7 linked regions of the Homo sapiens genome follow. The protein of the gene in region 2 interacts with the protein of the main gene of each other region in a pairwise test. Each region holds a gene or a part of one and is shown on either strand. Other genes may lie near its edges.

Region 1 (3,500 bases), about 24 Mb from region 2:
AATACAATGAAGAAAATACTCATAGTAGAAGGGAACTGTAAAACAAAGAAAGCAAATGATTGTACCTGGTAGTATTGAGAAACATTTCCAAAAGGCTCAACGTTTAGGTTGGGTCTTGAAGGATGAAAAGAAGTTTATACATGAGAAAGAGGGCAAAAGGCGTTCTAGCCAGAGAGAGCACCAAATGGGAAGGCAAAAACAGCGTATTAAACAGCATGGCCTCCTAGGGGATGGTAAGAAGTTTGCTATAGCTAGAGACTGTGGGCCTACAGAAGGATGGCAGAAGATGAAACTAGAAAAGTATGTAAGAGCTAGATCTTGGAAGCCCCTCCAGTTTTGGGGGTTCTGAGGCACTTCTGAAGGATTTTAAAAAGAAGAAACACAGGATTATAGGTCTACCAATCATTAGCTGTGTGACTTTGTCAAGTTACTTAACTCTAAGCATTCGTTTCCTTTTTGTAAAATGAGGTTATTGACTGTTTAGAGGCTCTAAGGAAGTCTGTTAAGAGGATTAAATAAGATAATCGCTAAAATAAATAAGATTAAATAAGACAAATAGAAATAAGCACATGAAGAGATGTTTAGCATCATTAATCATTAGAGAAATGCAAATCAAAATCACAATGAGATACTACCTCACACCCACTAGGATAGTTTGCTACAATAATTTTTTAAAATTTTTTTCTTCTTCTTTTTCTATATTTTCTTTTTTTTCCATGTTTTTCCAGAGATATAATAATTTTTTAAAAAACATGAAAATACTAAGTGTTGGCCAGAGTATAGATAAGTAAGAACCTTCACACACTGCTGGTGGAAATATAAAATGGTACAGCGACTTTGGAAAACAGTCTGGGAGTTCCTCAAATGATTAAACATGGAGTTATCATATGACCCAGCAATTTCACTCCTAGGTATATATTCAAGAGTAATGAACACATACGTCTACACAGAAACTGATACACGAATGTTTATAATAGCATTATTTGCAACAGCTAAGAGGTGGAAACAATCCAAATGTCCACTGACGGACAGGTGGGTAAACAAAATGTGGTATACCCATACAATGGAATGTAACTCGGCCATAAAAAGAATGAAGTACTGATATGGTCACGCGCCGCATAACATTTTGGTCAACAACTGACTACATATACGACGGTGGTCCCATAAGATTATAATACCATATTTTTATTGTACCTTTCCTGTGTTTATTTATTTGTTTATTTATTTTTGTAGACAAAGTCTTGCTCTATCCCCCAGGCTGGAGTGCAGTAGCACCATCTCAGGTCACTGCAACCTTCGCCTCCTGGGTTAAAGCAGTTCTCCTGCCTCAGCCTCCTGAGTAGCCGGGATTACAGGCACCCACCGCCATGCCTGGCTAATTTTTGTACTTTTAGTGGAGACGGGGTTTTGCCATGTTGGCCAGGCTTGTCTTGAACTCCTGACCTCGGTGATCCACCCACCTTGGGCTCCCAAAGTGCTGGGATTACAGGCGTGAGCCACTGTGCCCAGCTTTCCTGTGTTTAGATATGTTTAGATACACAAATACTTACCATTGTTTTACAAATGCCTATAGTATTATGCTATACAGGATTGTAGCCTAGGAGCCATAGGCTATACCATACAGCCTAGGCGTGTAGTAGGCTATATCAGCCAGGTTTGTGTAAGTACATTCTATGATGTTCACACAACAACAAAAATCACCTAACAACACATTTCTCAGAACATATCCCCATCATTAAGTGACATATGACTGTATATACTACAACATGGGTGAACCTTAAAAACCTCATGCTGGCTGGGAACGGTGGCGTGAGCCTGTAGTCCCAGCTACTTGGGAGACTGAGGCAGAGGACTGGTTGAGCCCAGGAGGTCAAGGATGTAGTGAGCCAGGATTACGCCACCACAATCCAGTATGGGTGACAGTGAGATCCTGTCTCTAAAAAACAAACAAGTCTGGGTGTGGTGGCTCATGCCTGTAATCCCAGCACCTTGGGAGGCCGAGGCGGGCGGATCATGAGGTCAGGAGACCGAGACCATCCTGGCGAACACGGTGAAACCCTGTCTCTACTAAAAATACAAAAAATTAGCCGGGCATGGTGGCAGGTGCCTGTAATCCCAGCTACTCGGGAGGCTGAGGCAGGAGAATGGCGTGAACCCAGGAGGCGGAGCTTGCAGTGAGCCGAGATCGCGCCATTGCACTCCAGCCTGGGTGACAGAACGAGACTTTGTCTAAAAAACAAAAAACCTGATGCTAAGTTACAGAAACTAGTCATAAAAAATACATATTTTATTTATGATTTTATTCACATGAAATGCCCAGAATGGGTAGATCCACATAGGAAGTAGATGAGGGGTTATCAGGAGCTAGGGAGACATGGGAATAGGAGTGACTGTTAACAGGCATGGGGTTTCTTTATGCAAATGATGAAAATGTTCTGGAGTTAAGAGGGTCATGATGGTTGCACAATTTTGTGACCATATCAAAAAACTGAATTGTACACTTTAAAATGGGTAAATTTTATGGCGTAAGAGTTATATCTCAGGCCAGGCGCAGTGGCTCACACCTGTAATCCCAGCACTTTGGGAAGCTGAGGCGGGTGGATCACCTGAGGTCAGGAGTTTGAGACCAGCCTGACCAACATGGTGAAACCCCGTCTCTACTAAAAATACAAAAAATTAGCCGGGCATGGTGGCAGGTGCCTGTAATCCCAGCTGCTTGAGAGGCTGAGGTAGGAGAATTGCTTGACCCTGGGAGGCGGAGGTTGCAGTGAGCCCAGATCACACCATTGCACTCCAGCCTGGGCAACAAGAGTGAAACTCCGTCTCAAAAAAAGTTATATCTAAAAAAAAAATAGGAATTGTCCTATACACTGGGGTCAGTTACAACCTGATATTCACATTGAAAGGATTTTAACATAACATGCATTCATAGTAGTACTCTTGAGTCATCAAAAAAGGTTTAAGTTATTTTCAGAATTATGTGATTAGGTCATGGAAATCGGTAATGCATTTCAGATTTTCTTCTTTCAGTAGAGTGACTTTATACGTTGAAACAGCAAGTTAGATCAATTTATATGGGACATCCAAAATCCAAATGGAAACATTTTAAATATCTGTAAGAGTTAAATATTATAATAGTCCCAAGAATATAACAGAATTCAAGATTTCCATCAAGTTCAATGATCTTTAAAAAGGTGGTTGGGAAAGACAATTACACATTTTAGGAACCATTAAGTTCGAAAGTCTTTGGAATAGAAGCCAATGACATGTATTTCTATGAGTAGACTGAAGATTTAAGTAGCGAGTGTAACTTGAACTAAGGTTGTCGTTGAGAAGATCAACTCTCTTTTTTTGAGACGGAGTCTTGCTCTGTCGCCCAGGCTAGAGTGCAGTGGCGCAATCTCGGTTTACTGCAACCTCTGCCTCCCAGGTTCAAGTGATTCTCCTGCTTCAGCCTCCCGAGTAGTTGTGATTACAGGTGCCTGCCACTGTGTGCTAAT
Region 2 (2,261 bases):
CTTGTTGCTGGTTTTGAAGATGAAGGGAGCCAAGGGCCAAGGGATGATGGCCTCTAGAAGCTTTAAATGATTCCTAGCCAACAGCCAAAAAGGCAACAGGGACCTCAATCCTACAGCACCATGGAATGAAATTCTGCCAACAACTCAATGCAACTGGAAACAGATTCTCCTCCACAGCCCAGCCCTATCAATGCTTTGGTTTTCAGCTTGTGTGACTTGAGGCAGAAAAACCAGCTAAGCCTGCTGGGTTTCTAACATATAGAACAATAAAATAATTTGTATTTTAAGTCGTTAAGTTTGTAGTAATTTGTTACAGCAACAGTAGAAAACCAATGCAATAACTCAAGTTAAAAACTATAATGTACAACTAAGATGACAAAAATGAAAAAAGATGGTGTGAAATCACCAATGAGTATAGGCAATCTTTTCCACTAACAACTTTCCTGTAACTATTAGTTGGTGTGCAGAATACCAGCATAATGATGGAGCAGAAACAAAAATAGCTTTCAAATGAATCAGAGACTTTTAATTTGATTTTGTGAAAAAAGCTTATAAGCAATCAGACAGGCTGCTTTTCTCCTTTGTGTTTGTTACCTATGAGTTTCATATGGTGCAAACATTAATTAGGAAGAATCTGTAACTATGAAATGCTATGTAATTCAGGAAGACATCTTTTCCATATGGTTAATGAAAGACAAATCCTTCCCATATCATTTAACACTCACAAAAAGTATATAACAAACAAAACTGAAATTTGAATCGGAGTTTATTTGAACAGAAAAGCACTGGAAGTCTGTTCATTTTTTTTTCTTGAAACCAATTATAAAAAGTGGTCCCAATTTCAACAATTAAAAAAAATTTTCAATAAATACGTAATGAAGTACTTCAATGGGTCAATGTATCAACCTATGGATTTTTTTTTCTTTTTCAAAGGTATGCTAAGAATGAATGAATGCAGGATGTTTTTGAAAAAAAGTAAATATTATATCCTATATTATGATTGTCATGACACAACCAAATGGCTGTTTTCAGTTTTATTTGTTGCATTCAAAATCCACTGTATATTTAAGCATACATGACAAAGAACACAACCATTCTTCCTAAAACAATAAAGATACTATCCTTAGAGTTCACAGTTCTACAACAACTTTACATTAAATGTTCAAAACATTGTACAACCACAGATATTTGTGAACAGTCTTGAGAGCTGTATTTTGGTACATTAAGGCAGCTTCAGCCAACATTTTAAGAGATTCTGAATATTTGTTACAACACAGGACAAGTTTGATATTTGAATACTTGAGGTCTCAAGAAATATTAAATGTCACCTAACAACACCACAATTTGTGAAACTGTGATCTTACCTAAAAATCAAGATACTCATCCTATCAGTATCAAAGATACTTATTTTTTTTAAAAAAAGGAATTTACATTGAATGTGGGGATATAAACCCTGTATTTAAACAAGGGCTTTCAAACAGTTGCTCACACACATCTGTGAGGTAGGTTATTATCCACATTTTGTAAATCAAAAAACTAAATGAGGTTACGTGACTTGCTGCTGCTTCAGCAGCCAAAGGAAGAAACTGATTCCAAGTTAGATTTTGTTCTTAGCTCTGAGTTGTTTCCTTGACAAACTTTTTAAAGGGTTAAAATATAAAAACTGCCATTCATCAAATTCATTTATAAAGCATGAGAAGGTAGCCAAATGTTATGTTTACCAAGGTGACTTATAAAGTCAATCAACATGAAAGAAATAGGAAAATACATTTAGTGAACAACTTCTGATAGTGATAGGGAGAGGTTTGACCAAGGGAACTCAATCAGGCAGATGCAAACAACATGATCATTTGTAGGAGGCAGATCTAAGGAGAACTGAGAGGGATTAGAAAAAAAGAAAATATAGTTTAAACAAGTTTTTACTATTACTCTTCTTATAATTTAAGGGAGAAGGCACAATTTAGTGTTTTTTTTTTTTTTTTTTTTTAGAACAGTGGATCTCTCTTCCACTTTAGGAAAATGTTATCTGTCTAGAAAAATGGCCATTTTTGGTAGCAAAACTTAAATGTGTAACTGTGAAAAATGCACGTTTAAATTAGTAGAAAAAAAAATAACAATGCAATTCTCCTTGGCTAGAATGTTTTTGTTCCTCCTTGAAATTTTAAATCAACACAACGTAGCAACCCTCCCTGCCCACCTCAGAAAAGGTCACACTGTATGCACTGTATGAACCTTGTCAAAATTCTACGTATTATTCAAAA
Region 3 (4,295 bases), on a different chromosome or scaffold from region 2:
GGACGTGCAGCTCGCGGGGTCCCACTGCCTGGAGGACGCAAGGATGTGCGGCACGGGCTCTGGGCTGGCCGACGCTGGATCCAGGGACCAAGGACTTTCCAGAAACGCCTTCACATCTGGGGTTCTAGAAGGAGCAACATGACAAGGATCCTGGGTCTATTCCCCAGCCCCCTGGAAGGCTGCCCCCACCCACCCCAAGAGCAGAGGGCTGGACCCATCCCCAGGACACCCCAGGCACCACCCAGCATCAAGCCAGCCTCTGCCCAGGGGCCCTGGGCCAGCCAAGCTCCACAGCTGTCTACCCAGTTTCCCTCTGCCCAACTCCTCCGGTTCTAGATTCTTCCACAGCTAATTAGCCACCAGTCCCATGCCCCAGCCTGCTTTGGGGTAAAATGGGTACATTTAAACACAAGATGCAGACAGTCCTTCAACCTGGGGAGCTGCCATTCTGAAAAGAACCAAATTATCTTGACTTCAGAAAACTGCATTCCTGAAGCTGCCCATGGGGAGGAGTATGACACCTCACTGACCACCTGTAAATTCCCCACACACAGGAGCAGAAGAGATCCTCCCGGGCACCTCCCACCTCCACACCAGCCCAGGCCCTCAATTCTGCTGACCGCGCTCCCCCCTTGCTGGAGCTCGCCCATGTTGGTCACCTCACACCTGGCCACCTGAGTTGGCAGGGCCCTGGGCAGGTCACCACCTGCGGAGGCCAAGCCGGGCCTCCAGGCCACACCCTCCCGAGGACATGCCAGGGGGCTTTGGGTCTGCTGCTCCCAGGGTCACCCAGCCCTGGAGAGCGGGCCCCAGGAGACACTAACCGAGTCCCGCTGGACGCTCCCGTCCCAGGGTCTGGCACACCTGCTTGAATCTGACTCGACAACGTCAACTGTAAAACATCCTCCTGCAACGAGTGCCACATTTCCTTGGAGGAAGCAAGAATCTGAAATTTAAGTAAACATGTAAAACAAAGACAGAGACAGTCAGCTGAGAAACCCAAGACACGGTGACAAGACTGCTACCCCAGGGCCTGGAGGGTCACTGTGAGCTCGGTCCCCGCTTGGAACTTGGGGGCGAGAGTACAGGTTGACAACGAGGCTGAGGTTCCACCCCCGAAAGGCCCCACCATTCCTGAATCAGGCTGTGCATACCCAAGGGCCTCACTGCAAATGCTGGGACCCCTGACCTCACAGATGACAACACAGTTTCATTCCCCACACAGGTCCTCAGCCCCAGCACTCACGGGGTCAGCCAGAGCCCCCAGAGCCTTGGAGAGGGGAGAGGAGCCTCTCTCTTGGAGACGTGCAGAGAAATGATCTAGGGGGTGCTCAGCCAGGGAGGATCAGGAGACCCCAACTCTCCCCCAAATTGGCACGGAGCATCTCGGCAACCCATCAATGAACAGGACTCAGGGGCACAGGAGGGCTGGAAAGGAAGGCTTGCTCCTTTCCAGGAACAGAATAACAACAGGTAAGGCTTGAACAAATCAGGAAGTGCCCTGCCGAAAACGTGGCCTGCTCTAGCCGTGGAGACCCAGAGGGCTGAAGGAGACGGGGATGACAGGGGACACACTGCCTGCAAGGTGGTGAGATGTCCCATCACCGTGATGCCGGAGGACTGACGGCGTCTACCCTTACAACTCACAGCGTGCTGCTCCTGACTGGGCCCCAGGGCGCTGGCAAGCCGCAGGAACTGCACAGACATCTCCAGGACCGAGGCCATGTCCTCCCGCCGGCCATCGAACTGGGGCAGCAGGGCCCGCAGACGCTCACAGCTCAACGACATCCGCTTCCTGGTTCCGGTCAAGAAACAAATACCTCTGGGCCCTCCTGCCCTCCCCGAGAAGGGACAGCAACTGCTAGAACCTGCCAGATAGACCCTGGGCGCTTGTCAGGCAGAGGGGGCTACAAGATGACTCAGAGCTGCCCCCGTGGTCTGAAGCCCCGAGATCCACATCAGAGCACAGCCTGGGCCTGACCCCTGGACCTCGGCGACAGGCTGTCCAGCCCAGGCCCAAACCATGGCTGCTTTGCGGTGTGGAAAAGACAGCGAGGGTCAGAGGCAGTCAGAAGCACAGAGGGTCACAGGTGCACAGCCTCAAGAGGCCAAGGCTTCAGGATAAAGAGGGGCTGCAGGATGTTCCCCAACAGGGCTTTTCTGGTTTACTTGGAGATGTGCAGTCTGTCCTTCTCCTGGGCACAGGCCACGAGCCCCTCCCAGCTGCCTGACACCTGGTGGCAGCCCCGAACATAATCTCACCCGCTCCACCCCTTTACAGCGCCCTCACCCCTGGGAGGCACCACCACTCACCTGCGCTCCCTCTCGCTGATCACGTTCCGCCGAAGGCAGGAGCTGGGACCCTCGGCCACCGTAGGGGCCTTGGGCGGGCCCGAGCCCCGGGCCGAGTCCTCGCAGCAGGAGAGGGCACCAGACAGGGAGCCGCTGCCGAGAAAGCCAAGAGCACCGGGCCCTGAGAACCCCAGAAAAGGCCACCAGGAGTCCCAGATGCCAGAATGGGCGTCTTTGGGGTGCGGGTGGAAGCCAAGACTGGGTCACGTAGGGACACGGCCCGGCCCTCTCTGCACCCCTTCCCCTCTCCCAGGGTCCAGGGCTCCGCCCCAGGAGGCCCAGGATGGGTGGAGCCCAGCAACTTGCGGAAGAACCCCTGGGTACAGGCCTTGGGCCCCCAACCCCTTGGCCGCCAGCCCAATTCCTCACTTGCATCCCCTGACGGTAGGGATTCTGGAGACCTCCGGGTAGGGCTCGGAGCACCGGGACGCCATGAACTCGCAGCTGCGGAGCGACCCCACGCGCACGGCCCCTTCCGCAGGCAGCCCCGCCCCCTCACGTGTGCTCTGCCCACCTGCCACGTGCTTTCCACCTAGCCCACCCCACCCCCACTTGCAATCCGCCCCCATAGCGCATGCGCTCTAGCCCTCCCCACGCAGCCAGCCCGGGGCCCACGTGACCCGCGTTCCTGCAAAGAAGGTGCTGGAAAGGGACTCGGGGGGTCCACCCACTCTATGCCCCCGCAGGACGCCAGGGGAAGGGGCCCCAGCCCAGGTGGCCCTGCCTCTACCCTTACCTTCCCGGGGGTCGCCTCGGTTCCCACTTATGCGGTGGTCTCGGTGCCCTTGGGCACTTTGGAGATGCGGGCTCTGCCCTTAGGAGCCCAGCCCCTGGTGGGAGTGGGCGGGCTGGGCTGAGTTGTTTAGCCCAGGCCTGGGGGACCCAGGGACACAGGGAGGGGGAAGGGTACCCGCCTGCTCCCCAGTCGCCCACGCCTCCATTTTCCCCCAAATCTAGTACGCTTGCAGACGCTGCGCCTCAGGGTAGGGTCACCATCCACACTTCTGGGTCGCCCAGAACCAGGGGCATCTTGTCCCCACCCCAGGCCACCATCGTCCGTGCTCTTCCTCCCGCTGAGCTCTGCCGGGCACCCTCGGAACCGTCTGTCCCTTCACCTGGCCCTGCCCAAGCACCATCCCCGCTTTATGCCCTGGGGCCCCAGCTCGACCCCTCACCTCACACTCTCAACAGGTTTCTGCGGGATCGCGGGGGTCCTGCCCATCCAAATTCAGAAAGCTCCGGCGCCAGGTGTTTGCTCACCTCCCCGCTGAACTCCAGGAGCCGCCCTGCGCTGGGCTTGAGTCCCCCAGTACATACTTTTGGGGGGATGACGGAGGGAAGGGGGAGGTGGAGACCCTTCCTCTTTCACGGAGGTTGCGGGGGGCCCTCAGGGAAGCAGAGGGGACGAGGGTGGGGGGTGAGGCTGGACTGTTGGGAGGACATCCCTGGCCTGGCTCGTGCTGAGGTCGTAGCGGGAGGAGGTGGGGTGGGTGGCAGGGGCTCTCCTCCCGAGAGGGGAGGCAAGAAGGAGCCCGGGCAGGTGCCACCACACGGGGACGTCTGTCCGGGGTGCCCCAGTCTCCTGTGGAGAAGGCGCGGCTCTGGGCCTCGGGCTGGCATCCTGGACTTTGGGCCAAAGATGGGTGAAGGGTGTTTGGAGCAGAGGGAGGTTATGTAATATAAGGTGGTGTCTCCATCCCTGCTCCGCCCAGCCTTGGCTGCAGGTCAGACATGGAGGAGGACGGGGTTGGAGAGGAGGGCAAAAGCTCTCGGGGACCTGGGCCCCTCTCCCGGCCCTGCCCCTGGCCAGGGAGGGATGGACGGGCTGGCGATCTGGGGCTCCTCAGTGGCAGAGTGGGGCCAAGTTTTTGTTTCCCTAAAGCCCTCGGAATGTCATCAAACCTGTGACTCTCCTGCCGTTGACAACACGTGTAATTACTGCT
Region 4 (3,500 bases), on a different chromosome or scaffold from region 2:
GCTAGGTGGGAACAGGTTATTCAAATACAGTTCCACAACTTCCCATGAACAAAACTAATTCAACTGTTAAGTATATGACCACCTGTCCATAGTCAGAATCATCCTCTTCTTCAGGATTAAGTAGCTTAGAGAGGGCTTCCAGAGCTGTAACTGAAGAAACACTCTCAAAGTCTACATTTTGAGATTCCATATTTTCTGTCTTCATATTTTCAGAATCCATATTTTCAGATTCCATTATCTGAAGAAAAAGATAATCAGAAAGAGGTATTTTACTTTTCTGTTTTATTTAAGACATGAAGATGTTTTATTGTCATATCTCCCTTCTTTCCCTGGATCACTCCATTGGTTCTTATACTTCCTTGGAAATCCTTTTAAACTCCTTCAAATATATGTATTTTGCTAACTCACAGACCTGGAGCACCAAGTAAACTCAAACATTCAGCCTGCTTTACTAAAATGTCATACTCAAGCTAACAAGCACTTATTGAGCACCTAGTATAGTGGTTCTCGGGTTTTAATGTGCTTAATAATCACTTGGGGGAGTTGGTTTAAAATGCAGATTCTTAAGCCCTACCTCTAGAAAAAGTGTATGATACATTATGTATCATCATTTGGGAACATATTTTTTAGACATGAGCAGTGCTTCAGGGCAGAAAGGTTGAAGTCATGGTTACAGGGAGACCTATTTAAAGTGAAGAAGGACGCTGGCCTATAGAAGGTGGGGTACAGTTCTTGAGGTTTGTGCACAAGTTGACTACTAGAGATGAAGGTTCAGAATAGGGCAGAATAGGGCTCAAAGTTCCAGCTGGAAAAGAGAAAACAAACCAGGCACTGTGTCGGTGGCTTTCTCGTGTCACCTAGGTACCCACAGTGGAGGTTATGAAGGAATGTTATGGTTCCTTTGGTACATTGGATACTGGATTCAGAAAAACCAGATTAATTCTGAATCCCTACCAGTTATTTGGAAAGGAACTCTGGCCTGGTTCTCATTAGGTGGGAAGTAGGCCAGTGTGAGCAGTGGGAAGCTATACCTGTAGATTTAGTGTCTTTAATAACTGCAGCTGGCACATAGTCAGCAGTTGATTAATACCAAATGAAGCATGACTAAATTCATCTGAATGTTATATTTCAAAATAGTCATTTGGAAGGTTATACACTGATGTAAATTATGCTATCAATGCTCAAAATATTTTGGGATTTTTCTTTTTATTTGGAATTGCCTTCATATGTATCACCAAGAAAATAGGTATCATTATGGTATCATTATGGTATCATTTGGTTTGATTACACATCAGATTTGTCGCCAAGTGATTTCTAGATATATTTAGATATCATGTCTACTTTCAAAATATGAAGATTTTCTTCTTTGAGGATATTCAAAAGAATGTGCTACATGCCTCAAGGTGATTCTAAAACAGAAGTTTCAAAAGCAATTTTAGCAATAACAACAACATTAGAGTAAATAGATTAGTCTCCTAAAGTGACTACTTCGAAGGGGATGGTCCTCCTTGGAACGTGTACACTTGTTTTTGTTAAATTATTCACAATAATTCTTAGTAACACTTTATATATCTGAAGCATATTAGGAGTTAGACTTCTTAAAGTACAATTGGACTTCCAAATTATGCTGGAATAAAATGCCATAGATTTGCACTATAGCTCAATTAAAATAGAAATATAATAATAAAATTACCACTTTAGCCAAAATATTTTTGCCATATCAAATGTAATAATAATCTGTAAACACAAATTAATAAATCATGACAACAAAAATAAATAAATCAATCATGACAAGTTTGTTGATATTGTATTTTGATAAACAAAAGAATCCCAAATATTTTGTGACTAACTAGTTAAATGGTTCAAAGTATCAAAAGAGAAAAACAGTTTGTGAATTTTTAGAAAAAAACATTCAAAATTCAATGGAAAGGAAGATTCTACTAGCTTTTTAAGAAGTCTAACATATTTAGAATAACTTATTCAACTTTATTAAAAAACATTTATTAAAATTCATTTGACACAAGTGGATCACAGCTGAAAAACTAAAACAGGAGGACTTTTTAGGAACTACAAAGAACTATTTGTAGGGAACTATCTTCACTACAATGAACTATGCAGTGTTAGTTTATAGCTCTATCTTTTATTTCTAAATGTGATATACATTTAAGTTCATCCTGAGTCTGGCAATCAAGGTCCTTCAGGATATAGTCCCAACGTAATTTTCTGTCCTTCCCTTCTATTATTCTCCTACATATTCTGTTAAAAACTAAACTGCTTATTAAACATACTCTATAATTTCCTGCCTTTGTACCTTGGAGTGCATTCTTCCTTTTGCCCTGACTTATTGGATAGTACAGTGTAGCGATTTTTAAAAAGAAGATTCTGGCCGGGTATGGTGGCTGACTGACGTCTGTAATGCAAACACTTTGAGAGGCCAAGGTGAGCTCACGGGTCACGTGAGCTCAGGAGTTCGAGATCAGCCTGAGCAACATAGCGAAACCCCGACTCTACAAAAAATACAAAAATTAGACGGGCGCGGTGGTGTGCCCCTGTGGTCCCATCTACTCAGGGGCCCGAGGCAGGATGATTGCTTGAGTCCCAGAGATGGAAGTTGCAGTGAGCCCAGATCGGGCCACTGCATTCCAGCCTGGGAGACAGAGTGAGATCCTGTTTCAAAAATAAATAAATAAATAAAATAATAACAATAAAAAATGAAAAAGAAGATTCTGGAGCCACACTGCCTAAAATGTTTGAATCTGGCACTGTCACTTAAATAGGCCAAGAATAAACTTAAAGTAAGGAAAATTTAAGAGTTTCAGTAAAAACAAAATATATTACTGTCTTTTATTTGAGATTTGTATTTAGAAAATAAATTTTTTAGGCCCTTTGTTTTTCTTTCTCTCCTTCTCTTTTGCTAGGCCAATGCTAATGGCAACATTTTCCAGACAGAGCCTTTGATTTTCCCACATTAACCTGAGTACTTGGGGTCTTCATAAATAGAGGCATGATTGGACCATCTACTAGCCACAATGAGCTAAAGCAACTGACACTCCAGAACCAGCTCATTACCATAACACTGGAGCCAGTCAGGGGCTGAAAAAGTTCAACCAGATTGGCTCCAGACCCACAGCACTTAAGCAACATCAGTAACCTTGAGTTAAAGTCAGACTGGTTCTAAGGCTGGGATCATGCTTTCTATTTTATTTGTCTCCTTCACAGTATCAATAAAGATGGCTTTTGACATCAGTTAATTGTAGAAAAGTCTAGGTTAAATTAGTGAAAACTCTGAATTACAGACTATTCAAATAGATAATAGATTTTATTAATTCAAGTATATATGGTAAATAAAATCAGGGTGATAAAGAACCACCAAGCAGGGCTGGGCGCAGTGGTTCACGTCTGTAATCCCAGCACTTTGGGAGGCTAAGGTGGGTGGATCACCTGAGGTCAGAAGTTCAAGATCAGCCTGGCCAACATGGCGATACCCCGACTCTACTAAA
Region 5 (3,500 bases), on a different chromosome or scaffold from region 2:
TTTGGTTTTGCGCTTGGTCTTTCGCTGGCGTTGCATATCTGGGGAAAGGTACTCTGTGGGGCCAACTCTACCTGGTACTGAGTTATGCCGTAGCCCTTGGGGCCAGGCTGGTTCCAGATGTGGGGGTAATGCCTGTTCACTGGGTGACACTGACTGTGGGACACAGCCTAGTGGCTGGAGGGGTTTAGAGGCGGCAGTAGCTCCATTAGCCAGTACCTGGAAAGAAGAAGAGGTAGAGGAAGAAGAGGGAGTAACACTAGATGCTGACTCCTCCTTACAACTACTGGCAATTAATGCAATTGGTGGGGGTTTATCCCGAGCTTGTGGCTGGGGGACGGTTGTGGAGTGGTTCCAGGAAGCAGTACCTATGCCATGTGACTGGTTGGGACCCCTGCCTGCCTGCTCCTTTGAGAGGCCACTGCTTTGAAGATGTTGCCAAAAATCTGATTGGTAGGGGAATGCTCCACTGCCAGGTGTCATCAGGGACTCCTTTAATTTCTGGTGACTCTGTGGCAGTGGTGGCATCTGAGAGGGCTCCTCAGGCTCTACCTTCAATCCTTTCGTCTGGGTAGGCTTGCTAAGAGTTGGAGGACCTATTCCAATACCAACTTGCTCTGGAGCTGGCACTGGAGGAGGAGGCACCTCCTCTGGGGGCCGTCCCGCATGATGAGTAAAAGAGAGAAGGGATTTGAAATGGAGTTGGTCCCGACGGTAGACTACTCGGGCTCGAGTCTCTTCTATTTCTTCAGATGACCAGCTAATACCACAGCGGAGGCGCTGGGCCATAAACCAAGTCTTGACTTTCTCCATCTGCAACCCATAACGTAGGCAGAGAAGGGCAATGTCTGCTAGGCTGGGATAGGGAAAGTAGCTGAAGGTTTTGAGCAGGTGTTCATTGCTGTCTAGCTCACTGGTCTGGGCTGCTTGCGTCCACACAAGCTGTAGCTCCTCAGAGATTGGAGGGAGGCAGATGAGCCCCGCTGGTGAACTACTGAGACCGCTGGCCTCTTTATTAGGAGGCATGGTGCCTTCTGATTTGTGCCCTTCAGAGATAGCTGCAATAAGAAGACAAACAGCTCAATCACTGGGTCTCCTCTTCTGACACACTGCTCAATTTCTACCAAACTAACTGCTGGACACCAGAACAATTTAATCTGTATTTGTATCATGTTGTATTGCTTTTTAAGTGCCTCAACAATTTCTTATTTAATTTTCATAAACTTAAGTCATCAGACCCTGCTTTAATTCCCATTTTCTGTGGACCAAAGTCCATAGACGTTAAATTACCCCAAGCCACATGACTGGTGAGTGTTGTTCCAAGAAAAAAATCTGTCTTTAAAGCCAGCCATGGTGGCTCATGCCTGTAATCCCAGCACTTCGGGAGGCCGAGGTGGGAGGATTGCTTGAGCCCAGAGCTTTGATACCAGCCTGGGCAACACAGTGAGACTACAAAAAATTTAAAAATCAGCTGGGCATGGTGGTTCGTGCCTGTCGTCCCAACTACTTGGGAGGCTGAGGCAGGAGGACTGCTTGAGCCTGAGAGGTTGAGGCTGCAGTGAGCTATGATTGCACCACTGCACTCCAGCCTGGGTGATAGAGTGAGACCCTATCAAAAAAAAAAAAAATCTGTCTTTAGAAGTTAAGAAGGAAAACTGATCCTGATATAGCTTTTTTTAGTGTGTATGTGTGTGTCTGTGTGTGTGTGCGTGTGTTTTGAGATGGAGTCTCACTCTCTCGCCCAGGCTGGAGTGCAGTGGCATGATCTTGGCTCACTGCAACCTCCACCTCCCAGGTTCAAGCAATTCTCTACCTCAGCCTCCCGAGTAGCTGGGATTACAGGTGCCCGCCACCACGCCCGGCTACTTTTTGTATTTTTAGTAGAGATGGGGTTTCACCGTCTTGGCCAGGCTGGTCTTGAACTCCTGACCTCGTGATCCACCTGCCTCTGGCCTCCCAAAGCTGGAATTACAGGCATGAGTCACCACACCCAGCTGGTGGGTTGTTTTTTTTTAAAGAGATAATATTGCTCTGTCACCCAGGCCACCCAGGCTGGAGTGCAGTGGCACCATCATAGCTCTGATACAGCCTTTATCTTTCCTATTCAAACCCACTTCTAGAAGCTATCCACCAACTCTCACCTTCTAAATTCATGGAACAAGAATCACATAGTGAAGACTCAACCACAAAAACAAGAGGAGCAATAATTTCAACTGGTTTGTGTGTGTGTGCATTTTTGTTTTTGTTTTTTCAAGAGACAGGGTCTCACTCTGTTGCCTAGGCTGGAGTGCAGTGGCATGATCATGGCTCATTGCAGCTTTGAACTCTTAGGCTCAAGCAATCCTCCCACCTCAGCCTCCCAAGTAGCTAGGACTACAGGTACATGCAGCCATATCCGGCTAATTTTAAAATTTTTTGTAGACAGGGTCTCACTATGTGGCCTAGGCTGGTCTCAAACTCCTAGCCTCAAGTGATCCTCCCACCTCAGCCTCCCAAACTGCTGAGATTACTGGAGTGAGCCACTGTACCCGGCCCTCAGAATTGTTTGTTTGTTTGTTTGTTTTTGAGCAGGATCTTGCTCTGTTGCCTAGACTGGAGTAGAGTGGCATGATCTCAGCTTACTGCAGCCTCCGCCTCCTGGGTTCAAGTGATTCTTGTGCCTCAGCCTCCTGAATAGCTGGGACTACAGGCGTGTGCCACCATGCCCTGCTACATTTTGTATTTTTAGTAGAGACGAGGTTTTACCATGTTAACCAGGCTGGTCCCGAACTCCTGACCTCAAGTGATCCACCGGCCTCGGCCTCCCAAAGTGCTGGGATTACAGGCGTGAGCCACGGCGCCTGGCCAGAATTGTTAATAACTATTTTTTTTTTTGAGACAGAGTCTTTCTGTCACCCAGGCTGGAGTGCAGTGGCGTGATCTTGGCTCACTGCAACCTCCACCTCCCGGGTTCAAGTGATTCTCCTGCCTCAGCCTCCTGAGTAGCTGGAATTACAAGCGTGCACCATGATGCCCAGCTAATTTTTGTACTTTTAGTAGAGACGAAGTTTCACTATTGTTATAAATAAAGTTTCGGTGCCACAAAAGAAATAGCAATCGAATATAAAATTTTCTTTTTTTTTTCTTCTCAGTAGGGCAATTTACTTCTATAGAAGGGTGCGCCCTCATAGATGGAGCAGTGGTGAGCACACACCTGGACAAAAGAGGGGAAGAAGTTCTTATTCCTGACACAGGTGGCCCCTGCCGCTGTCATTCCCATATTGGCTAGGGTTAGACCGCACAGGCTAAACTAATTCCGATTGGCTAATTTAAAGAGAGTGACCGGGTGAGTGGTTTGGTGGGGAAAATGGTTATGGCAGAGCAGGAAATCGGAAGGAGTCAGGGTGGAGAATGAGTCAGGGCAGAGCAGGTAATCGGAATGAGTCAGGGTGGAGCAGGTGATCGAAAAAGGTTGCTTTACAAGGAAGTTAAGTTTAAAAGTAGAAGGCAAAGAATTGAACATA
Region 6 (3,420 bases), on a different chromosome or scaffold from region 2:
AACCTAATCCTTAATACAAATAATATGAGGCTTGTCATAAGACTATAGGAGAAGCCTGTAAAGTTTATGGAAGTCTCCTACCACAGGCCAGGAACTTTACAACAGACCTTTCAGTGAAGACATATGGAAAAGAAAAAGAAACAGAGGTAGAAAGATAGATAGTGTTATCAAATTGTATTAATTTATATGTAATGATTCCTTCACTTCTGAATTAGGCTTTGCATCTAGCTAATCCCTGAACACTCATTGACTTTCAATGTATAAGAAAGTACTTGGTAAAAGACTGCTTCTAAATCTGAAAAGGTTCAAATAGTCTACAATTCACAATTTCTTTATATGTATAGGCATGGATATGATATGCAAATGTTTTTAAATTATAGTGTTTAACCACACTACTTGACTCCTTAATCTCATTTCCAAAGGAGCTGAGATTAAAGAGTAAATCCCCAGCATTCTTCAGAAACAGTACCAGCCCCAAGAGCACCAAGCCTTTAAAAATATTTCCATACATTATTTCTTTTATTCCTTTTAATCTTTTTTAAATAAAGAGGGGAAAGCACTTATCATCTCCATTCAGTTACATAGAATCGGAATGCTGCTATGTGACAGAAATCATCACACTAATGCACAGGAATTGAAGTCAAGCAACTTTGGTCTTGTCTGAATTGAATTAAGTCTTGACCTTGTAAACATTTCCGTTGGAGGTAGAACATACACATTTGACTTTTTGTCAAATAAGGGATAGTAAACAATGATTCTGAGATCCTAATAAATTAAAGGTATTGTAAAGGCATTAAATATACTTTTTAAAAGAAACCAAAGATAAAAAGGCACACAGATGTTTAATAAATTAGAAAGTGAAATGTAAATCTTCATAGTTGAAATGTTTGCATCTTCAGATCTTCACTGGTTTTATTTGATAATTTTGAAACTATGATTAATAATGAGCTCACATTTTAAACTCTTAGTGTGCATGACAAGCTCTGCAAGTATCTCCATTCACTATGGAGTTGTCCATAGTACCAGTGACTTTAAAACAATGTCAGCCACTGCATATTCATTTTTATTTACTCTTATGGAAGTCTGAGTGAATAATGATATTTGCACAGTAGAGATTTTTTTTAAAGTTTTAGCACCCCCTCCCACATTGGTGGTTTAAGTGCCTCCAGCTGCTGTTCCCATGAACACAGTGTTGATAGGTGGTAAAGAGGACACCATTTCTCTACTGCTTGTTCCATGGGAGTCCAGGGTTTCTTGAGCTGGATACTGGTTGGAAGTTCCATACATACATTGGGATGAGGAAGAAGGAATTGGGGTTTGCAAACTGGAAGCTGTAAGGGAAAATATAATCAGCAATTGAAAATTGATTGACATTTTCTTTTCTCTGCAAATGCCACTCATTTTAATACCCTGTATTTATTTTTGCACTTAGCACACATACCTATTCTAAATTTGAGTCTGTATGGTTTACCAGAGCAATCATTTTTTCTTCCATTTGTTCCCACTTGCTAGTCTCCCAGAAATTATTTCCTCTACATATTTCACAAAGAAAACTCCATTTCAACTTAAGTGCTACCGCCAAAATATATCCCCCAATCAACCTCCTCTTTCCATCTGCACTTTCACGGTTGTAGTTCAAACCACCATCTTTTCTCTCCTGGACCAACACAGCAGCCTCCTGACTGGTCCCATGATCTCCACCTTTGTTTCACCCACTCACCTTCCCGAGAGCAACCAGAATGATATTGCTGAAGAGTAGATCAAACTTTCACTCGTCTCAAATGCCATAGTGGCTTCCGATACCCTTGGAACATGAACCAAGCATCTTACCCTATGTAGATGGGCCCCTGATTTTTTATTTATTTTGCTCTACTCTCTCCTTCATTCAACATGCTTAAGACACACTGGCCTGCTCTCTGCCCATTGATTTTTTCAAATTTATTCTGATTTCAGCGGTTCTGCATTCACTGTTTCTTCTGCCTGGAACTCCTCCCTCAGATCTTCACATCTTTGCCTCCTTCTCATCACTCAGCTTTCAACTCAAATGTTTCTGCCTCAGGATTCCTTTCTCAGCTGTCCTACCGAAAGCAGCTCCTCCTTTACTGTCTGTCATTTTACTCTATTTAATCAGGTTCAGAGTACTTGACATTATCTTTTTAATGCATTTGCTCATGTATTTATTGCCTTACTGTCCCTCTACTAGAATGTAAACTTCTTACAGGCAAGAACTATGGCCTGATCACCACCATATCCTCACATCTAGAATGGGGTCTGGCTCCTAGTCGGTTCTCAATAAAATTCATTAACTGGCTCACTAGCCCTGTATTTCTCTCATATATGGTTGCTGCCTTCTTATTGCTGACATGACGTGCTCTCTGTCTAAGAACCAGGCTTTATACTTAAGAAATAGTTGAACTCAATTCTCCTTGCACTACTTATCCACTTATTCTATCCCCTCATTTTACCCTGCAGCACACTTTGTAATCTACTTGTAAGCCAGCTCTGATAAACTAAAGCTTAGACTCCACCCTACTCTTAACCTATGTTTCGTCAAAGCTTCCACTATCTCTTCAGGTAAACAGAACTAATAGTAACAATAGCAACACAGTACATTTTAGTCTCATGGTGAGAAAACTTCCTGAAGTGGAATTTTCTGCTTCATTAGAGTAACCTAGAAGCAATGACCATTTGCAGATAGCAGAAGATGAGCTGCTAGATTCTGCTCAGGGAGCATGTGTGACAGTGACAGGAAGAGAAGGAGTACTTCCTATTGAATTATTGGGAAGGTACACTGAGTGAGGAGAGATGAAATTGATTTCATTTTCCCTTATGCTCTGGTTGCGTGTCAATGCCCTCTACTTATGCTAGTCTGAAATCAATCTCATTGGAAGACTTTAACCATCTCATATAAATATTAACACTCTGCTTTGATACTTAGTGAATATATACTTGCCCTGTGAAATCTTATTAGTATTTTTAGAAACTAAATCTATAGTGACTAAATCTATGTTATTACTAATAACATACTAATTATTATTGCAGAATTTCTTCATAGATGAGGATTAAGAAATGTAACCTGGTTGGAAGAAGATTCCAGGAGGCTTCACGGCAAGCACACGTTTTTCTTATTTTTACTTACATGATATGTTAGAGAGCAATAAAAATGGCAACATTTTCTACAGAGGTGTTGAATCACATTTTACATAAGAATGAGAAAATGCTAGTAGCACCCATCACAGGACACCAGTTTTTTTTAATCTTGGAGTGATTTTTGGATACTGATGGAGATCATGAGGCCTAAAGATATCTCTTGGCACTACAACTGGGTCCAACACTAATCAAGAGTGAGAAAAGGATATTATTACTGCCCTTTTAAAACTTACAGTTTTAGACTGCATTTGACAGGTCATATTAATCTTT
Region 7 (3,500 bases), on a different chromosome or scaffold from region 2:
CAGTCCGGGAGCATCTGGTGGTGAGTCTGCCCCACTGCCTGATGCTCCCTCCACCTGGTGCTCCCTGCCTCTCTCTGTGGTCAAGGTAGGGGACGAGATCGTCCGGATCAATGGATATTCCATCTCCTCCTGTACCCATGAGGAGGTCATCAACCTCATTCGAACCAAGAAAACTGTGTCCATCAAAGTGAGACGTGAGTGAGGCCAGAGCAGGGCAGTACTCCATGACGGTGGGAGGGAGGGAGGGCGGGGGAGCAGGGCAGTACTCCATGACGGTGGGAGGGAGGGAGGGCGGGGGAGCAGGTCAGTACTCCATGACGGTGGGAGGGAGGGAGGGCGGGGGAGCTGTCCTAACCCCTGTGCCTTTCTCCCGCAGACATCGGCCTGATCCCCGTGAAAAGGTGAGAGGCCCCTCCTCTGCAGGCCAACTCTTCCCTGTGGGCCCAGGATCCTGGTACAGCCCTGGGGTCCGGCTCCCACCATGCCAGCCCTGCTTCTGGGCCAGTGGAGGCTGGAGGCTCTAGACATGGTGGATCTGGATGTGGGGCCTGGTTCCTCAAACGTCTCTCGCTAACCACCCTCCCATCTATTTTCCCTTCCCATCAGCTCTCCTGATGAGCCCCTCACTTGGCAGTATGTGGATCAGTTTGTGTCGGAATCTGGGGTAAGGGCCAGACCTCCTGTGATGGGGTTTGGGTGGGGTCATCTTCAAGGAGGGGTGGCCGGTCCTGAAGGGAGGGCTTGCTCTAGAGATGCACCCTCAGGGGCTTCACACAGGCTCCCAGGGCAGCCAGCACACCGCTGTGGGGCAGCAGCCCTCGGCCAGGCCCAGCTGGTGCAGACACATCCCCAGGGACGGAATGATGATCTGGCTGGCGTGAGTTCAGCAGTGCTCGCCCTGCAGATCCCACAAGCTCAAGAGGCCGCTTGCACGCATGTGGACACTCCGTGATTCTGCTTCTATCTCTCTTTCAGGGCGTGCGAGGCAGCCTGGGCTCCCCTGGAAATCGGGAAAACAAGGAGAAGAAGGTCTTCATCAGCCTGGTAGGCTCCCGAGGCCTTGGCTGCAGGTGGGTGGCAGGCATGCCCTGGGGTCATTCGTGGCCAGTGCACCCCAGCAGGCCCCTATTGCCCTCCCCTTCCTCACTGCCACTTCCGAGGAAACCTTGCCCACCAGGGGTGTGACTGTCCATGGGTGATGATACTTTTTTTGTTAGATACAGGGTCTGACTCTGTTGCCCAGGCTGGAGTGCAGTGGCATGATCATAGCTCACTGTAGCCTCAACCTCCCCAGCTCAAGCAATCCTCCCACCTCAGCCTCCTGAGTAGCTGGATCTACAGGAACACACTGCCATACCCAGCTAACTTTTAATTTTTTTGTAGAGATGGAGTTTTGTTATGTTGCCCAGGCTGGTCTCAAACTCCTGGGCTCAAGTGATCCTCCCACCTCAGCCTCCCAAAGCCCTGGGATTAGAGGCATGAAGCACCGCACCCAGCCTTGGTGTTGACACTTCTTGGTGCCTGATTTCCCCTCTGAACTTCATGACAGGCCTTTAGGGCCAGAGGGTCATCTCTAACAGAGCCCAATTTACAGATGAGGAAATTGAGGCCCAGAGGCAGAACAGTGTTACCTTGTGGGCCCTTGAGTCACTGCAAAAGGAGCCTGTTTGGCTGGTCATCTCTGTCACAGCTCTCTTGTCACTTATTAACTTGTTGGCTTCCTTAAGAGGCAGACAGGGAATTCCGAACAGACACTGGGCCACACGGGGCTTAAGCATGCAGGTGCCACCGTTACTCAGATCCCAGTTCCAGCCCTGCTTTCCCACTTAAGAGCTCTGGAACCTTGGGCCAGTTACTTAACCACTTTGAGCCTCAGTTTCTCCCTCTATAAATGGGCGATAATAATTCCCACATCACAGGGTGGTTGTGGAGAAAGTAAAGTGCCAAACTTAGTACCTGCTAAATAGTAAGCAGTTGGTAAATATTAGCTATTATTATTTAAGTTATCCCTGTTCTTTCCTTTCATTCACATTTATTCAATGTTTTGTGCCAAGCACAAGTGATAAAAAGTCCCACCTTTCTGGGAGACAACAGCCTAATCTAGAAGCCAACCAAGTAAATAGTTATAATATAGGGTGATAGGGACTCGAACGGGACTACATTCTGCGTCCAGGATGGCAAATAGGTGCCATCTCTAGTCAATGAGTAGCAGCTCCCTGGAGTGCTGCTTTGAAAAGCATTCTAAAGCTGTATCCAGGATTGTGGGAAAGAGTGCTGTGATCAATGAGTGACTTCTGCCACCAATCTAGGAAGGAATACTAACAGTACATGTACCATCCTTGCCGTAAATGTCATAGGAGCACTGAGAACAGAGCGGCTAGTTTAGTCTTGGGATAGAATAAGGGATCTGAGCCAGGCATGGTGGTGCACACCTGTAGTCGCAGCTAGGCTGAGGTGGGAAGATTGCTTGATCCCAGGAGTTGGAGGTTGCAGAGAGCTATGATCACACCACTGCACTCCAACCTGGGTGACAGAGCAAGACCCTGTCTCTAAAAAATAAATTTAAAAAAATAAGAGGATCTGGTAAAAACCTTATAGAAGGGATAGCATTTGAGTCTTAATGGATGGACAGGAAAGTGCTAGAAAGAAAGAAGAAACAGCATATGAGGTATATTAGGTGAGAGGTTGGGTAGGAAGAATTACAAGGATTTTTCTGTGGCTGTTGCCCAGGGTAGCAGTAGAAATCAGGCTGGAGAGGGACACAGAGGCTGAAGAGGTAGGCAGTCAAGGGCCTTCAGTCCTCAGCTCATGAGTGACCTGTATCCTGAGCACTGGACATGGGTTACCTGAATCCCGAGCACACATTTCCCACCTCCCGCAGCATTTCCAGCGGCCCCATCCAGAAGCCTGGCATCTTTATCAGCCATGTGAAACCTGGCTCCCTGTCTGCTGAGGTGGGATTGGAGGTGAGTGACGCTGGGCCGGCCCCAGTGGGGGCCCACTGGAAATTGGGTCAGACTGTGATCCCGCGGTGACAGGGGCAGGTGCCTTTCCACATGGCCCTCTTTCAGTGGACACTGAGGGAGTAGGAGCCCTACCCACCCTGCAGAGAAGGCTTCACAGACTGGGGATGTTTGACCCTTCTGCAGCCTTCCCCAGCTCTGATAGTTGTTGGTCACGAGCTTGGGAATGTCGTAATGGTAATCAAAGAGCGGACCTTCAGTGTCCACTTGCATCAGACATTGTTCCATGCCCTTTACACTTCACAAGAATGCTGAGGGTTAAGTACCACCATTATCCCCACTTTACATATGAGGAAACTGAGACCCAGAGAAAGTATATGATTTTTCCAAAATCGTGTACCTCATATGGTAGGGCTGGGATTCAAACCTAGGTGGTCCAATCCCAAAGCAGGAACCCTTAACCTCTTCTTTGGACAAGTTACTTCATGTCTGTTTGCTTACCTGTAAGATGGGGATAATACAGGCTTTCTTCCAAGG

What was found.
Region 1: the proteins of PRKAA2 (region 2) and ZBTB8A interact in binary tests that used the Homo sapiens proteins (3 or more experiments, as listed by UniProt).
Region 3: the proteins of PRKAA2 (region 2) and SOHLH1 interact in binary tests that used the Homo sapiens proteins (3 or more experiments, as listed by UniProt).
Region 4: the proteins of PRKAA2 (region 2) and DNAAF6 interact in binary tests that used the Homo sapiens proteins (3 or more experiments, as listed by UniProt).
Region 5: the proteins of PRKAA2 (region 2) and HOMEZ interact in binary tests that used the Homo sapiens proteins (3 or more experiments, as listed by UniProt).
Region 6: the proteins of PRKAA2 (region 2) and RFX6 interact in binary tests that used the Homo sapiens proteins (3 or more experiments, as listed by UniProt).
Region 7: the proteins of PRKAA2 (region 2) and USH1C interact in binary tests that used the Homo sapiens proteins (3 or more experiments, as listed by UniProt).

The regions. Positions count from the first base shown.
Region 1 is NC_000001.11:32,542,427-32,545,926, reverse strand, and holds part of ZBTB8A (zinc finger and BTB domain-containing protein 8A), read right to left. Parts: intron 1-3,500. UniProt on the Homo sapiens protein: May be involved in transcriptional regulation.
Region 2 is NC_000001.11:56,713,575-56,715,835, reverse strand, and holds the end of PRKAA2 (5'-AMP-activated protein kinase catalytic subunit alpha-2), read right to left. Parts: 3' UTR 501-2,261; downstream 1-500. UniProt on the Homo sapiens protein: Catalytic subunit of AMP-activated protein kinase (AMPK), an energy sensor protein kinase that plays a key role in regulating cellular energy metabolism.
Region 3 is NC_000009.12:135,696,682-135,700,976, forward strand, and holds the start of SOHLH1 (spermatogenesis- and oogenesis-specific basic helix-loop-helix-containing protein 1), read right to left. Parts: upstream 2,801-4,295; 5' UTR 2,787-2,800; coding exon 2,722-2,786; intron 2,446-2,721; coding exon 2,314-2,445; intron 1,796-2,313; coding exon 1,648-1,795; intron 947-1,647; coding exon 825-946; intron 125-824; coding exon 1-124. UniProt on the Homo sapiens protein: Transcription regulator of both male and female germline differentiation. Suppresses genes involved in spermatogonial stem cells maintenance, and induces genes important for spermatogonial differentiation.
Region 4 is NC_000023.11:107,209,611-107,213,110, reverse strand, and holds part of DNAAF6 (dynein axonemal assembly factor 6), read right to left. Parts: intron 239-3,500; 5' UTR 236-238; coding exon 83-235; intron 1-82. UniProt on the Homo sapiens protein: Plays a role in cytoplasmic pre-assembly of axonemal dynein.
Region 5 is NC_000014.9:23,276,133-23,279,632, forward strand, and holds part of HOMEZ (homeobox and leucine zipper protein Homez), read right to left. Parts: intron 1,056-3,500; coding exon 1-1,055. UniProt on the Homo sapiens protein: May function as a transcriptional regulator.
Region 6 is NC_000006.12:116,929,242-116,932,661, reverse strand, and holds the end of RFX6 (DNA-binding protein RFX6), read right to left. Parts: intron 1,332-3,420; coding exon 1,156-1,331; 3' UTR 501-1,155; downstream 1-500. UniProt on the Homo sapiens protein: Transcription factor required to direct islet cell differentiation during endocrine pancreas development. Specifically required for the differentiation of 4 of the 5 islet cell types and for the production of insulin.
Region 7 is NC_000011.10:17,523,917-17,527,416, reverse strand, and holds part of USH1C (harmonin), read left to right. Parts: intron 1-85; coding exon 86-194; intron 195-376; coding exon 377-401; intron 402-606; coding exon 607-664; intron 665-975; coding exon 976-1,070; intron 1,071-2,881; coding exon 2,882-2,966; intron 2,967-3,500. UniProt on the Homo sapiens protein: Anchoring/scaffolding protein that is a part of the functional network formed by USH1C, USH1G, CDH23 and MYO7A that mediates mechanotransduction in cochlear hair cells. Required for normal development and maintenance of cochlear hair cell bundles.